Regions from separate parts of the Homo sapiens genome. Here region 2 is linked to region 1. A link means that fine-mapping ties the variant in region 1 to the expression of a gene that starts in the linked region. Tissue or cell type: whole blood. Region 1 holds a variant in brackets; the other region holds the start of a gene. All regions are shown on one strand. Distances are between the middles of the regions.

What was found. PIP is the estimated chance that this variant, and not a neighbour inherited with it, causes the effect.
Region 2: CCDC9B starts here. The variant in region 1 is fine-mapped to the expression of CCDC9B in whole blood (TOPMed, PIP above 0.99).

The regions. Positions count from the first base shown.
Region 1 is chr15:40,308,116-40,316,216 of GRCh38, reverse strand. LOC112268152 (a long non-coding RNA gene) reads left to right here. Exons shown (of 3, transcript XR_002957721.2): 3 at 5,435-6,180. It also overlaps the pseudogene RPLP0P10. Among named protein-coding and RNA genes, the nearest start is that of PLCB2, 4.2 kb to the right of the region's middle. RefSeq lists a silencer at 5,949-6,152. The variant G/T (reference allele first, on the strand shown) is at 4,370.
Region 2 is chr15:40,336,929-40,345,029 of GRCh38, reverse strand. CCDC9B (coiled-coil domain containing 9B) reads left to right here and starts at 4,091. Exons shown (of 11, transcript NM_207380.3): 1 at 4,091-4,222; 2 at 5,015-5,125; 3 at 5,411-5,518; 4 at 6,127-6,282; 5 at 6,370-6,495; 6 at 7,137-7,306; 7 at 7,584-7,642. The coding sequence starts at 4,211. RefSeq lists silencers at 181-270, 291-400 and enhancers at 1-567, 751-1,250, 4,195-4,998, 7,908-8,101.

The sequences.
Region 1 (8,101 bases):
TTTGTCTTTTCTGCTCAAAGGCCACTCTCTGGGGGCTAAAAGAGTGTTTGATTCACTGACGTGGGATCTCACATACCATTGCAGAAGACCAAGAGTCCCACTTTAAGGATAGAATGGGCACATGATCATGGGATCTTTTAGGCCTATTACATACTTCACCATCCAGAAGCTGAATAGAGCTGGTGGAATGATAGAACAGCCTTTAGAAGCACAGCTGAAATACCATGTTAGAGATGATGGGACACCGTGCTCCAGGATGAGGTATGCATCCTAATCAATAACTGTTATATATGGTGCTATGTGTCAACGTGTAGAATAGAGGTTTAGGAAACTAGGGGTAGAAGTAGGAATGACTCCACTTACCATCACTCCCAGTGACCTTTCTGGAGGAATTTGTGGTTCCCATTCCTGCAGTTCCAAGCTCTCCAGGTTCAGAGAATCTGGTTCCCAGAGGGGGAGCACTTCCACCAGGGACAGAACAAGAACCCCATAAACTTAAGTATGGCTGCTTTCTGTTCGTCAGACTCTTTGTGCCAAGAAACCAGCAGGAAAGAAGAGGAGTCACTTCCTGGAAGGGGCAACTGACCCCCATCCTTTGGGAGAGATAGGGCTGCTGTTACATAAGGGGGTCAGGAAAGAATATGTTTGGCACCCAGGTGATCCACTGGGGTGTCTGTTGGTATGCCCAATTTTGGTGGAAGGTGGACACATCAGCAGCATGGTCTGAAGGCCATGGTGATTGGTGATTGGTTACCCCGACAGGCAAGCCACCTACACCAGCAGAGGTGCAAGTTGAAGGTAAAAAGAATCTAGAATGAGTGACAGAGAAGGGGAATGATGAACATCAATTGTGTCACCAAGACTAGTTGCAGTAGTGGGGGCTATAGTTTCTCCATTTAATTCTTGTAAGTTTCCCAGAATCCAGGAGGAGCTATTCCCAGGTAGAGTGAACTTACCACATAAATCAAGTAGGTCTGGGCTATGCCTGGGGGTACTGTCTCGGTTGCTGTGGTGCACCACCCAGATACTGCTTTTAGGACCAAGGAGCTTATCCCTGAAGTTGCCAGAAGTGTTGGCTGCCAATGGCTCACACATGAGTCTCTCCCTTGGCATTTCCTTCAGCTGCTAAAGGGAGCTGTCTTGCTGGACTTCACAACCCTTCCCTAGGGGTCATCTGCCAAGTCAATGTGGAATTCAAAGGTACAGCCCTCTTATCCAAGTTGGGGCTAACTCTACGGGGCCAGCTCAACCCCAGGGCTTCCTGTGGAAGCATTCTGTATTGTGACTGCATTGTTCACCAATTTCTTCCTCTGGCTTGATTCTGATTCTTTCACTAGTTCACAGATGTTATCTCTGAAAGCACCCCCAATAAACTTCCTACAAGAAAATCTCTATCTCGGCATGTTTCCTGAGAAACCTGACCTAAGACAGTCTCCTAAGATTCTAACTTTAAAAAAATATGTACTTAAATTTTTTTTGAGAGAGAGTCTCGCTCTGTCGCACAGGCTGAAGTGCAGTGGCACAATCTTGGGTCACTGCAACCTCCGCCTCCCGGGTTCAAGCAATTCTCCTGACTCAGCCTCCTGAGTAGCTGGGACTACAGGCATGTGCCACTGCGCCTGGCTAATTTTTATATTTTTAGTAGAGATGGGGTTTCACCATGTTGGCCAGGTGGGACTTGAGCTCCTGGCCTCAGATGGTCTGCCCCCCTCAGCCCCCCAAAGTGCTGAGATTACAGGCGTGAGCCACCGCACCTGGCCTAGATTCTAACTTTTGGGACCTCAGAGAACAAGACTCATCCATGTGAAGTTGGGCCTCCTGGCCACCTGTGTCTTCTATAAAGTGGTTCTCTTCAGAGTGTTGCCTGCATCCTGGCTGCTTTCCACCAAATATCCTTCAACTTATGACCTTCCCTGCAACAAAGCAACCTAAACTGAATTCCTCAAGTATTTTGGGTGTGGTCTGTTGTGCTGAGAATGAGAATGGGACTGATTGTTCCTTGGTTCAAAAGCCCTGGATGCATCTTGGAATGAGGGGGGATACTCTTTAGAAACTCAAACTCCTGGCTGGGCGCAGTGACTCATGCCTATAATCCCAACACTTTGGGAGGCCAAGGCACGAGGATTGCTTGAGCCCATGAGCTTGAGACCAGCCTGGGTAGCAGAGTGAAACCTGTCTCTAAAAAAAAATAAAAGAAATGCAAACTCCTCACCTTCCTTTCCCTCTCTCATCTCATCCCAGATCACGATTCAGAGGGTCTTGGTACAGCAAGGAATATGCAGTGTTACCAGAGCTTTGCAGGTGGTTCTGGTGTGATATCAAGATGGAGAACCACAGGGCTCAGTACCCGACTTCAGTTCGGCAGCCTGAGTCTGCCCGTTTTTATTGGCAGCTCTGTCATTTGACTCAGATGGAGCTGGCTGTCAGCGAAAACCCTCAGTTTTATTCACACATGCTTCTGCTAAGCTGCCACTTCCCCACCCTGTCCTTGTACAGTCGGTGTCTTGGCACCAAGCCCAGATCTCTCAGTTAAGCCCTGTTCATTTCACCTTGGGAGGTTTAGGCCAGTGCTCCAATAGGTTAGAATGTTTTTGGATCCTGAGTCTGTCTTCCAACATATTCCTGTCTTCGCTGGCTCCTTGCTATTCGCAAAGTTGAGGGGCTTGTTCTCTGTGGCTTTGCCCAGGTCCTGATAAAAAGGTGGATCAGATGCCAAGTTTGGTGGTACATGCCCATAATCCCAGCTACTGGAGAGGGTGAGGTGGGAGGATTGCTTGAGCCCAGGAGTTCAAGACCAGCCTGGGCAACAGGGTGAGATTACATCGTATATTAAAAAAAAAAAAAAAAAAAAAAACTCTCTCTTGGCATCCTCGTGAAAGTGACATTGTCTTTAAACCCTGCGTGGCAATCCCTGATGCACTGCCGTGATGCCCAGGGAAGACAGGATGACCTGGAAGTCCAACTACTTCAAGATCATCCAGCTTTTGGATGATTATCCAAAATGTTTCATCGTGGGAGCAGCAATGTGGGCTCCAAGCAGACGCAGCAGATCTGCATGTCCCTCTGAGAGAAGGCCGTGGTGCTGATGGACAAGAACACCATGATGCTCACGGCCATCTGAGGGCACCTGGAAAACAACCCAGCTCTGGAGAAACTGCTGCCTCATATCTGGGGGAATGTGGGCTTTGCATTCACCAAGGAGGACCTCACTGAAATCAAGGACATGTTGCTGGCTAGTAAGGTGCCAGCTGCCACCTGTGCTGGTCCCATTGCCCCATGTGAAGTCACTGTGCCAGCCCAGAACACTGGTCTGGGGCCAGAGAAAACCTCCTTTTTCCAGGCTTTAGGAATCACCACTAAAATCTCCAGGGGCACCATTGAAATCCTGAGTGATGTGCAGCTGATCAAGACTGGAGACAAAGTGGGAGCCAACAAAGCCACGCTGCTGAACACGCCGAGCATTTCTCCCTCCTCCTTTGCGCTGGTCATCCAGCAGGCATCTGACAATGGCAGCATCTACAACCCTGAAGTGCTTGACATCACAGAGGAAACTTCCTTCTTGCTTCCTGAAGGTTGTCCGCGATGTTGCCAGTGTCTGTCTGCAGACTGGCTACCCACCTGTTGCATCAGTACCCCATTCTATCATCAGTGGGTACAAATGAGCCCTGGCTCTGTGGAGACTGATTATACCTTCCCACTTGCTGGAAAGGTCAAGGCCTTCTTGGCTGATCCATCTGCATTTGTGGCTATTGCCTCTGTGGCTGTTGCCACCACGGCTGCTCCCGCTGCTGCAGCCCCAGCTAAGGTTGAAGCCAAGGAAGAGGTGGAGGAGCTGGGTGAGGATATGGGATTTGGTCTCTTTGACTAATCATCAAAAAACAACCAACTCAGCCAGCTTTATTTACAAAACAAGGAAATAAAGGCTTAACTTCTAAAAAAAAAAAAAAAGGTTGGACCAGGACAGGAGTAAGAACAGAAGCAATTGATCAATACTGATGACCTTCCCTATATGCAATGCACCGTGCCCACCTAGAGGAGGACATCATATAATTTATTTCTATCACACTTATTAAAACTGGCCCATTTCACAGAGGGATTGACAGAGGCAGAGGAGTGATTGTGCCCAAGAATGTCACACTGGGATGAGAGCTAAGCCTCTCCTGCCACCTACAGCTCTCATCTCTAGGTTTGTTGTCTCTCAGAGGAAAGGCAAGAGAGAAAAGTGACAAGATTGGCCCTTCCAAGTGGAAAGAGATTTTTAGAGCTGGAAGGATTCTTAGAAATGATCAAAAGTTTGACAGATTCAAGGGCTCAGGTAACTTGCTAAGATCACAGAACAAACCTTTGCTCCAGTGGGGACTAAACTCTG[G/T]GTTTCTTGAAGATGGACACAGGTAAATTTGATCCAAAATAGCACTTCAAAGAGAAACATACATGGACTGATTGTTTTCCACTTTTTTTTTTTTGAGATGGAGTCTCGTTCTGTCACCCAGGCTGGAGGCAATGGTGTGAACTTGGCTCACTGCAACCTCTGCCTCCCAGTTCCAGCTATTCTCCTGCCTTAGCCACCTGAGTAATTGGGATTACAGGTGTGTGCCACCATGTCTGGCTCATTTTTGTATTTTTGGTAGAGACGGGGTTTCACCATGATGGTCAGGCTGATCTTGAGCTCCTGACTTCGTGACCCACCCGCCTCGGCCTCCCAAAGTGCTGGGATTACAGGCGTGAGCCACCATGCCCAGTTTGTTTTCCACTTCTAAGTCCCAGATGGTTCCTTGTCGGGTTATAGAGGGGCTTGGAATGGGAAGACAAGCAACATCTTCCTCCTGGGCATCTACAGGAAACTTGATTGCCTCTCTCCTCCCTAAGGGATCAGTGTTGGCTACCCAGCCTTGCCCATGCCTCCACTTCTGCTTAGCTCTCAGTACACAGAGGGTGGCTGAAGCTGGGGCCACAGAGGGACACACAGCTGGGCAGCTCAGCACTCTCATCTGTGCCTCATCAGCTGGGGGGCTGTGGTGGCATGAAGCTGGTGGGAGGCTGGCACTTGCCCATGATTGGAGCCCTTGTGCTCATCACTTCATGAGTTCAGGCCGCTTGGGAACAGCTTGCTTCAAGTCCACAGACAGGAGCAACCCTAACTCAGTCTGCCCTGCAAAGGTGGGTACAGCCCCTGATCCACACGAACTGCTGGAAGAAAAATCCAAAGAGAAAGTCAGTGAAGACGTTTGTAGAAAGAACTGTTGAAGAAGGAATAAGAAACTGCCATTTTTCCTGTCAGTGTCTGCTAATAAGTAATAATAAAATAACAATGATAACTCATAATGATAATGATAGTATTATTGAGCTCATGTGTAGGCACTGTATTAAGTACCATTCATTATATTCTTTAATCCTTGCAACATCCCCATGAGGCATTATTATCCCCATTTTACAGGTGAGAAGGCTGAGGCCCAAGAAGGTTAAGTATCACAAGATAAACCAGCTAGTAAGTGGCTGGGTTCCTAGAGTGGTGAGTGTGGCTCCCTTTGCCAGACTGGGAAACAGACACCATAAGAGCCATCTTCCCTCCAAAAGAGGGCCAGCCCTTGACCAAGATGGACAACAGGGTTCCACACTCCTGAAACCCACTGCTTCAACCATCATGGCATCAGATAAGAAACCGACCTAGTCTGATCCTCTTATTTGGCTGGCAGCTGTGGCACCTGAAGGTCTGAGTTCAACTTCTGCCATTAAACTTCTCTGATGAGCAAACTGGGAAACCAATGCATGGGGCTCCCACATAGCACTGGCAAGTGAACAAATGAACTTGGGACATATGTGCTGGGGTCCAGGTCACAAGCATGTCCCTTGTGGGAGGCAACATTTGGTTGAATATAAGTTCTTACCACATTCTATGGCCCAAGGCTCCCACTTGCCAAACTCTCTGGCATAGGTGTTCCCGTGGGTCACAAATGACAGACCCAACCGCAACTTCCAGGACATGCATGCTTTGAGTGCACCCAGCAGGGGGCATCCTTGCCCTTCCACTGCCCACCCTGGAGGGGTGAGACTGGCCCACTGCAGGGTTGCCCTCTACCCAGCTCAGCCCAGGAGCCCAAGGCCACATTTCCCAAACGGGGCATTCATGTAACTACCCTGATTTTCTCTACTATTATTTACATAACATTTTTCTTTGTCAACACAAATTTTCAAACCTAAATGTATTTTTAAAAGCAAAAAGCTCTTTGATGAAGATTTTCCGCTCTCCTGACTGCCTGGATTTTCTGCATTTTTGGAGCTAGCTTTGCAGGAGGTCAGGATGTGAGCAGGAGAGTACAGGCCCCCACTGAAGCTACAGTTGTGGTCCCAAGAACAGTGCAGGCAGTGACATCACTGAGTAAAGATGGGCAAGGCTTTGTTCTGTGGATTCGGAGCTGGAGATGGAAAGGAACAGAGTGAGGAGCCCTGAAATCCTGAAATGAGGAGAGGAGGCTGTCCCTTTCCTCCTCAGGCTGAGGGGGAGGAATGGACTGGTCTCTCCAGGCCCAAAGTGGAGAGGGGGCTGATGGCTACAGGACAGATGAAAGGGAGGGACTTGGGTGCCGGGACCAGGGCAGCCGCAGGTGACAGGTGCAGGGGCTTTGGGAAGGGACAGGGATTTCCCTTGCAAAATCCATTCAAACAGATATCGAGGGAACCTGATCCCAGGGAGGAACCCAGAACAGCATGGGCTGCCAGAGGGGCCCCCAGAAGGGCCCCAGACTGGAGGGAGGGAGAGAGGAGAGATGACGCTAAGGGACTGGGGGAAACGAGGAAGAAGAGTCCTCTGAATTGTTACCATTTCCAGAGGCTTGGTCAGGCCCTGCTCCGGCTCCATCCCCCGGCCCTAGAATTGCTCTTCTGCAGATTATTTCTGTGCTGGGAATTCCCTTAGCTCCAGCCTCCACTGGGCAGTTTATTATCTTAATTCCGCATGAAGAGTGTCCTCCCTCACCCTCCACCCTGCCCTGGACCAGACCTCCAGCCGCGACAATTCTAGGGCCTGGGTGAGGGTCTTACCGTTGTTGGGGGTATGCAAAGCCCCATGGGGGGGTGACCCAGGGCAAAAGGCCAGGCCCCAGAGGGGAAGGAAGTCTTGGGTAGAGCTCCCTGCCTCCCAGGCTGGGCTAAGAAGGGCGATAAGAGGAGCAGATTAGGCAAGAGGAAGTGGGCTGGGCTGAGCTGGACTGGTGCTGAACTCCCTGGGCCTGGGGCAGAGTGTGGGTCAGGCACCTGAGCAGCTGGGGCTGAGCCTGGCCAACCAGAGCAGCCATCCCTCCGCCCCAGCCCCGCTGCAGGCTGGGGTACACAGCAGAGGCGGGCACACGGAGGAGAGAGGAGAGCGCAGTGGAGGCAGGGGCTAGGGCTGCTCAGTGGGGGTCCAGGCCTCAGGCAGTCCCAGAGGCCCAGAGGTGGGAGTCTGGTGAGGTGGGTGAGGGGAGTGATTGCCTTGCCTCATGTGCCCCTCATTTTCTTTCTTTTTTTATTTTTTTCGAGATGGAGTCTTGCTCTGTCGCCCAGGCTGGAGTGCAGTGGCGCCATCTCGGCTCATTGCAAGCTCCGCCTCCTGGGTTCATGCCATTCTCCTGCCTCAGCCTCCCGAGTAGCTGGGACTACAGGCGCCGCTGCCACGCCCAGCTAATTTTTTGCATTTTTAGTAGAGACAGGGTTTCACCGTGTTAGCCAGGATGGTCTCGATCTCCTGACCTCGTGATCCGCCCGCCTCGGCCTCCCAAAGTGCTAGGATTACAGGCGTGAGCCACCGCACCCGCCCGCCCGGCAGGTGCACCTCATTTTCATGGGGGAGGAAGCATTGAGAAAGAGGAGCCGTGTGTTCAGCAAACTTTGCTTATTCAAAACACTCCATTCCAGCTGGGCCCTGTCCCCACCCCACCCCTGCCTCTACGGTGCTCCCAACCTTTGGGGTCAGATGCCCATGCTCTGGACCCTTCCCCTGAGGAGGTCCTTTCTCCTAGTGAGCTCCCTGTGCCTTCCCTCAGTCCAGGCCTGGGCAGCAGTCTCCCCAGCTGGTCTCCATGTCGTCCTTCTCCAGCCCTCCTGGGCCAAATCTGACCAGAGACCA
Region 2 (8,101 bases), 29 kb before region 1:
TCAGCAGAACGGCATTGGCGGGGCAGCCGGTGAAGGCGCCCTGGGCAGGAGGCAGCTCCCGGGTGTGTGGCCTCAGCGGCATCACAGACAGGCTGTGCCACCTGGGCAGAGGGCGCCACCTCTTTGGGCTTCAGCTTCCTCATCAATAAAATAAGTCTTCTACAACTAGATGGCTTCTCTAGTCTGATGGAGTTGGGAGGTGGAGGTTACAGGGACTTGGGGGAGGCCCTGTGGAACAACAGAGAAAGGGAACCGCCTCCCGCACCCAAAAACAGGCTGTTGTCGCTCTGCTGCCCCTTAGTGGCGACACAGAGAAACAGACACCCAGTCTCATGGGGATGGCAAGCTGGTCCTTCTCCATCTCCCCTGCTTCCTGTGGGCTTCTCCCCGGGGTGGGGTGGGGCTACTCTTAGGGCACCTTTACCACCCACCGGCTCCCTCAGGGCTGCGTACATTCTAGGTGGACAGAAAGGCAGTCCCAGCCTATGCATAGGATACCCACAGCTATGCACAGGATGGCAAGCACAATTCACGCATGTCTTCATTCTGGAAGTGCTGATGGAGGTTCTTTAGTATGCAGGGGCACCGTGCCAGACACTGGGGATCCAGAGGCACTTGGCAGGTCATTCCTGCCCTCAGAGAGCCTCTGTCCAATGGAGAGCAGACAGGCCAACCACAGACTCTGGGGAAAGTGGGAGACTGTGGGGGCTGCTCAGAGGTGTGACGTCATGTGTGAATAACACTGGGAAACACACAGTCAGCAGCTGCTGGTACCCCCCGTATGATGGTTGGTTTGTCTTGGGCACATACCCCTCTAGCCTGACAGACCAGAAGGCCTTTGCCCTAGGTGAGGGGAGTGTGTTCCTGCAGGCCCTTCCAGAAGAGCTGTGTGGCCATCCCACAGGCGATAAGCCTGTGCCCATGCCTTTACCCCCCTGCTACTCTCTTGCCCCCACCTTGTCTGGGAATGGGGGAGGGGGTACACAGCCTTGCCTTATCCCTGTAGCTTCCTTACCCCATCTACACATCTCCTCCCCAGACCTGGTCCGGGCCTGAGTTCTGAAGAGGCTGGAGAGCATTAGGTCTCCCTCCCCAGCAAGTGCTCTGCGGGCCTCCCAGCTCCAACACAGTGCGGGGCAGGCGAAGGGAAGTTTGAGGCTTCTGGAGGCTTCTGAAGCCTCCTGAGGCTGGCGTGGAACTCAGTCCACTGTATGGGGCAGGATGCAGAGCGTCTGGGAGAAGGAGAGAGAGTGTGTGCGTGTATGTGTGTGAGAGAGGCCCAGGGCACAAAGCCTGGGTGCGTCATGGTTGCTGGGAGAGTTTGACGAGTCTGACTCAGTGGGGACATCCGGCAGGAAAGGAAGGGAGAGCGCAGTGGCATTTGCAAGCAAGATGGGAACTCTGGGGTGGTGGAGATGGGGTGTGGGGCCAGGGGTGCTGTGCAAAGGCCTGGACAGGAAGAGGGCTAAGCCTGGCGGAGCTGGGGGAGGGAGTGGGGAGGAAAGGGCAGTTCTGGAGGGGTGGAGGTTGGACCTCTGGCTGCCTGGGTGGGTCTGGGAGGAGAAAGAAGGCAGCGGGGGTTTCTGCTCTGGAGACAGAGGGGACGAGTTGTGGCATTTGGGAAACTGGCCTGGTCAATCAGGGATGTGGGGAATGCAGGGGCTTCTGATTCTCACCTGAGGGCCTGGAGCTCAGGGCCTTGTAGCTGAGGAAACAGACTCCACGAATTCCTAGTCCAGAAAGACCACCCTCCTCTCAGCACCCCCAAGCCTTGAGTCCCAGAGGCTCTAGGAGCCTGGGCAGGGAGACCAGTCTCAGCTGTATGAGGAAGATATGGGGGAGGAGCTTTCCTGAGAAGGGCTGATTCCTTTGCCAGGTTCAGAGAGGCTGAAAAAGCCAGTCTTGGAGAGCAAGGCCAGGAAGGGCCCAAACTTAGGGCCCGAGGGAGGAAGGCTGTTGACCAGCTCTGAACTGCCATGGCAAGGGCCCTGGAGGAATGCCTGGCTCACCATACCAAAGGGCTAGAGACCCAAACAACAGAGCCTCTTGGAAGCGGCTGTGCTTTAAAACATAGTCATGTGTCTGCTAATGACAGGGCTATGTTCTGAGAAATACGTTGTTAGGTGGTTTTGTCATTGTGTGAACACCACAGAGAGCACTTACACAAACCTAGATGGTACAGCCTACTACACACCCAGGCTATATGGTATAGCTATTGCTCCTAGGCTACAAACCTGTACAGCAGGTTACTGTACTGCATACTGTAGGCAGCTGTAACACAGTGCTAAGTGTTTACATATCTAAACTTAGAAAAGATATAGTAAAAATATGGTGTACAAGATTTAAAATGGCACACCTGTATAGGGCACTTACCATGAATGAAGCCTGCAGGACTGGAGGTTGCTCTGGTGAGTCACTGAGTGAGTGATGAGTGAATCTGAAGGCCTAGGACATTACCGTCTGCTACTATAGATTTTATAAACACTGTACACTTACGTTAGACTAAATTTATACGAATGATTTTTTGGTCAGGCATGGTGGCTCATGCCTGTCATCCTAGTACTTTGGGAGGCCAAGGCAGGAGGATCACTTGAGCCTAGGTGTTCAAGACCAGCCTGTGCAACATAGCAAGACGTTCTCTCTACAAAAAATTTTAAAACTACCTGGACATGGTGGCATGCGCCTGTTGTCCAAGCTACTCAGGAGGCTGAGGCAGGGGGATCCCTTGAGCCCAGGAGGTTGAGGCTGCAGTGAGCCATGATCATGTCACTGACCTCTGGCTTGGGTGACAGAGTGAGACTGTCTCAAAAAATGAAAAATTAAAAAATATATATTTTTGTTTCTTCAGTAATAAATTAACCTTAGCTTACTGTAACCTTTTTACTTTATAAACTTTTTAATTTAAAAAAACTTTTTGACTCTCTTGGTAATAACCCTTAGCTTAAAACACAAACAAAACACATTGTACAGCTGTACAAAAATATTTTCTCTTTATATCCTTATTCTATAAGTTTTTTTGCTATTTTGAAACTTTTTCTTTTTTTTAACTTTTTAAACTTTTTTCTCAAAATCTAACACACACACATTAGCCTAGGCCTACACAGAGTCAGAATCATCAACATCACTGTCTTCCATTCCACATATTGACCCACTGGAAGGTCTTCAGGGGCATTAACAGGCCTGCAGCTGTCATCTCCTATGCTAACAATGCCTTCTGGATTTCCTCCTGAAGGACCTGCCCGAGGCTGTTTTACAGTTCACTTTTTTTTGTTGTTGTTGTAAGTAGAAGAAATACACTCTAAAATAATGATAAAAAGTATAGTATAGTAAATACATAAGCCAGTAACATAATTGTTAATTATCATTATCAGGTATTCTGTACTGTGCACACTTGTATGTGCCATACTTTTGTGCGGCTGTCATGCCGTAGGTCTGTTTACACAAGCGTCACCATAAGCACATAAGTAGTGCCCTGTGCTACCATGTTATAATGGCTACAATGTCACTAAGCCATAGGAATTTGTAGCTCCATTATAATCTTATGGGACCACCATCATATATGTGGTCCATTGTTGAGTGAAACGTCATTATATGGTGCATGACTGCACAGAGAAGACAATGTCCAACCTAAAAGAATGAATGACTATTGTTGTCATTTTAGGGATGTGGTAGTACTTGGTAGTCTAGGGGAGGTGAGCTTCTTGATCCCTTTGAATTACTTAAACCAAGGCTGATGAGGAGAAGGAGCAGGAGAGGGCAGGCGCATCTGTGTGCTGTAGGCCTTTTTCTACTCATGGGAGGCACAGAGGCCTACGCTGGCTGCCCATCTTGTCTGCAGGCAGGCCCAGGCTGGGGTCCTGCTGGGGCCTAGGCAGCCAGGCCTCCTGTGTAGGCTTGACCCACCAGGGAGAAGTCCCTACCAGTCTGTCTGGGGACGCTGGGGTGGGGCAGGGAGAGGTGCTAGGCAGGACCAGCCAGCTGCCAGTGCCCTGGTCCTCGCCCTCTGAGAGTGGAAGGGTGGGGGTGGCGGCCCGACGTTCCTGGCTGGGAGCCCAGAGGAGTCTTTTGTAATCACAACATGATCTCGTGTGCTGAGCAGCGAAGCCGGCAGGGAGAGGCCGGCAGAGGCCCGGCTCCGGTGGCTCCAGCTTTCCTCCCACTCTGGCTCCCCAGGGGCTGCTCTGGAATTCTCTCGGTGCCCGCCGTTGCCATGCACTCGGCTGTGAGTGGCAGTCTGCCTTTGGCAGGGGGCTTCTTGGGACTGGGAGGGGGCTGGGATACCAGGCAGCCACCCTCTGGGGGCAGCTGGGGACAGCTGGGGCTGGGAGGAAGAAGGCTGTGACTAGGGTCACAACAGAGAACCTGCATCCAGACAGAGAGGAACCTGGAATCTTGATGCAGAGACATGGCTTGCCCAGGGTGACTCCTGGGCTGGGGCCGCCAGGGGAGCTGGCTCTCTCCGCCCCGACTACCAGCAGCTTTCGGCCTGGAGAGGCTGGGCCCCTGGGAGCGGCTCTTTCCTCCAGGCTGGGCACAGGCCTAGGTGCGGGGTCCAGGGCCTGAGAGCCCAGGACGGAGCCAGGGCCTCTCCTTTTTCTCTGGTTGTGGATCTGGGAGCCAAACAGCTCCCCCCTCGACCTCCCGAATCCCCTGGCAGCTTCCCAGTCACGGCAGGTTCCGCTGCCAGAGCCATTTATAACTCCCATTCCAGGCTCTGCTCGGCAGTGAAGCTCCCTGGAGAGCTGGGGGAGGGGCACCCCACTGCTGGGAGCTGTGGCTTGGGGTATGAGGCCCTGACCTGAGCCCCCTGAGGAGGCAGGGACAGGCAGACGGGCCTAGCTGGAATGGGGGCTTGGGGCCTTATTTGGGCCATCTCCCTAAGCAATCCCCTTCCTTCCTGGGTGACCTTAGCTGTGGGTCTGGGATCTCTTCCTTGGGTGGTGAAAATGTGAAAGCTGGGGACTGGTGAGAGGGGGACCCGGAAGTCAGGAGCTTGGGTTCCCTGCCTCTGCAGGGAACTCCCAGAGCCGAGTCCCCCATGAGCAGGCAGGAGAAGGACGCAGAGCTGGATCGGAGGATAGTTGCCCTGCGCAAGAAGAACCAGGCCTTGCTCCGCAGGTACCAGGTGAGTGGGCTGCCACAGGGCCAGGAGAAACCACTTGGCTGCCGCTCCCTGTGCCCCACACGTGGTGGTCTCCCTGCAGGCTCAGCAATGCGCCTCTGGGGCTGGGGCCAGGGGTAGGGTGGGCATGGTCCCTCTTAGAGGCTTGGTGAGGGTCCTGGGGATGTGTGATGTGGCGCCTCTGCCCCCTGGTGTCCCACTGGTGTCTCTCTGTGTAGGCCTATCAGCATCTATGTCTCTGTGCACCTGGGGGGCCATGGCGTGTGCTGACCCCCAGCCCTCCCACAGGAGATCCAGGAGGACCGTCGGCAGGCAGAGCAGGGGGGGATGGCTGTGACCACACCAGCACTCCTCCAGCCTGATGGCCTCACCGTTACCATCAGCCAGGTTCCCGGTGTAAGCCTCACCCTGGGAGACAGGGCTCGTAGCAAGGAGGTGGAGGCCCAGACCATGTCGGGGAAAGACAGCTGCCTCTGTTCCCCTCTCCTACTAACTATTCTGGGGTGCACCTGCCAGCTCCCAACCTCCTGCAGTCGGACCACTGCTGTCCCCACCAAAGAGCCACAGCTGAAAGCCCCCCTACCCCCAGTAGATGCATCTTCATACCCTTTTCCAGTCCACAGCCCTGCGCCTATGCCACAAAGCACAGGCCACTCCTAAACCTCAAGCCCCAGGGGCTAAAACCCTGCAGGAAGTGGGGGACAGAGAAGTTGGGGCTGAATGCCAGGAGCAGTGTCTGAGGGACAGAGACCCATTGTTTGAGTGCTCTGGGTTTCCCAGCTCAGAGATGACGGGCCACTGTGGCATCTTGGGCCGCTGGGTGGCCCTGGGCCCTGGATAACCTCATGCCATTGGCATGTGAACACCCTGTGGGAGTCAGCTCTTCTGTGGGGAATGCAGGGAGGGCTGGGGTTGGAACCCAGGCCTGGGGAACCACCGAGAGGACCCAGCACCCAGGTCCTGCCCAGCACTGCCCATGTGGCCTGAGGGTCTTTGTTCTGCAGGAAAAGCGGGTGGTTAGCAGGAACTGGGCAAGGGGTACCTGTGGACCCAGAGTGACCAACGAGATGCTTGAGGATGAGGATGCTGAGGACCACGGGGGTACTTTCTGCTTAGGGGAGCTGGTGGAGCTGGCTGTGACCATGGAGAACAAAGCAGAGGTGAGCAGGGTGGTGGGGAGTGCAGGCATCGGCAGGCAGCCTCTTCCTCCCTGGCTCTGCTGCACTGCCCATCTTCATCCTCCCCAGGGCAAACGGATTGTAAGTGAAAAGCCTACCAGAGCAAGGAACCAAGGCATAGAGGGGTCACCTGGAGGGCGTGTGACCCGAAGCCCCCCCACGCAGGTGGCCATCAGCTCAGATTCTGCACGGAAGGTGTGTCTTCAAGAGGGGATGGGGACATGGATCTGAAGGTCCTCACTTGGGGGAGGCAGAGAAGCTGAGTCAGATATGTCCCTCATTTGCGGGGACGTGGCCAAGGGAGCACATGCAGGAGTTCCTGCTCCTCCTCCCTTTCTCTGGCCAGTCTCTACTTTGGGTGGGCCTTGAAGTGGGAGACAGTTTAAGCCAAAGATGTGATCCAGCCCCCTCCCCTATTTAGCCCTGCTGATGGTGGCATGGGAGTTGGGGAGGGGGCAGGAGGGTGGAGTTGACTGGCCAAGTGCCAGGTGTGACCTCTAGGTGGCAGCAGCCCCTAGTCCTTGCCCTTGCTCACAGCTTCCAGGGCCCCTCCCACTCCGGCCCGTCTGCATACCCCTGCAACACCCCTGTGGGTTGGTGCTACGGAGATCCTCCCCATTTTACACGAGGAAATGAGACACAGAGAGGTTAAATTACTTATGTAAAACACACAGCTAACAAGTGGATGGAAACCATTTCCACGGGAGAGCTGGAACAGGCCTAATTTTTAGCTGGAGATGTGGAAACCTTGAGAGAGGAAGCGCCTGGAGTCTCCAAACCCCACCCCAAGCCTCTTCCTGCTTCTCCCCCTCACTCTGAGTGTCTTCTCCCTACAGGGTTCTTGGGAGCCCTGGAGCCGGCCGGTGGGGGAGCCCCCGGAGGCGGGCTGGGACTATGCCCAGTGGAAGCAGGAGCGGGAGCAGATCGACCTAGCCCGCCTCGCCCGGCACAGAGACGCACAGGGTGACTGGCGCCGCCCGTGGGACCTGGACAAGGCCAAGTCCACGTGGGTGGCTGGGTTGGGCAGGTTGCCTGTGGTGCGGGATGGAGCTGGCTTCGGGCACTGCTGGGAGGGCTGCAGGGACCCTCCTCGGGGTTGAGAGGACCTTGCTGGGCATTCTGGTCGAGCCCAGGGTTCAAGGCTCTGGGTCTCCCATCTTTCTTGGGCCCACCATCTCCCTGCTGCCTTCAATTCTGGGCCTGGGCTTCGGGGAGGGGGGTGTCAGGGTGGGGCCCGCGGCAGCTTCTGTGCACCAGCAACCTGACTCCCTCTGTCTACACAGGCTACAGGACTGCAGCCAGCTGAGGGGAGAAGGCCCGGCCAGGGCAGGCAGCAGAAGGGGTGAGCCCACACCTACCTCATCCCTCCCCTCCTTGGCTTTGTTCATCTTTCACCCCCTTGTCCTCTCTTTTCTCTGTCTCTTAGTCTCTTATTTTCAGAGCTGAAAGGAAGCGTTGGAGAACATCTTCCTTCCTCTCCCTCACTATCAGAGGAGGGCACCAAGACCTCCCATCCTCCCCTCTGAGCCCACAGCTCTTGTCCAGGTTCTGAGCAGAAGGCCCCAGAAGGAGGCTCAGTGGAAGCCGGCCCGGGGTCTCTTTGAGGTCCCTAAAGGGTGAAAGTCCTGGTGGTCCTTCCCCAGACCTACTGTAGAAACAGCTCTGTGGAGTTCTGGTCCCCTTGTTTTATATATAAAGAAGCTGTGGCCTGAGAGTTGGGGCCAGACACCTAGCCATGGAGTGGCAAAGCTAGCACAGGACCCTATTCTCCTGACCCCCAGGCGAGGGCGCTTTTGGGGAG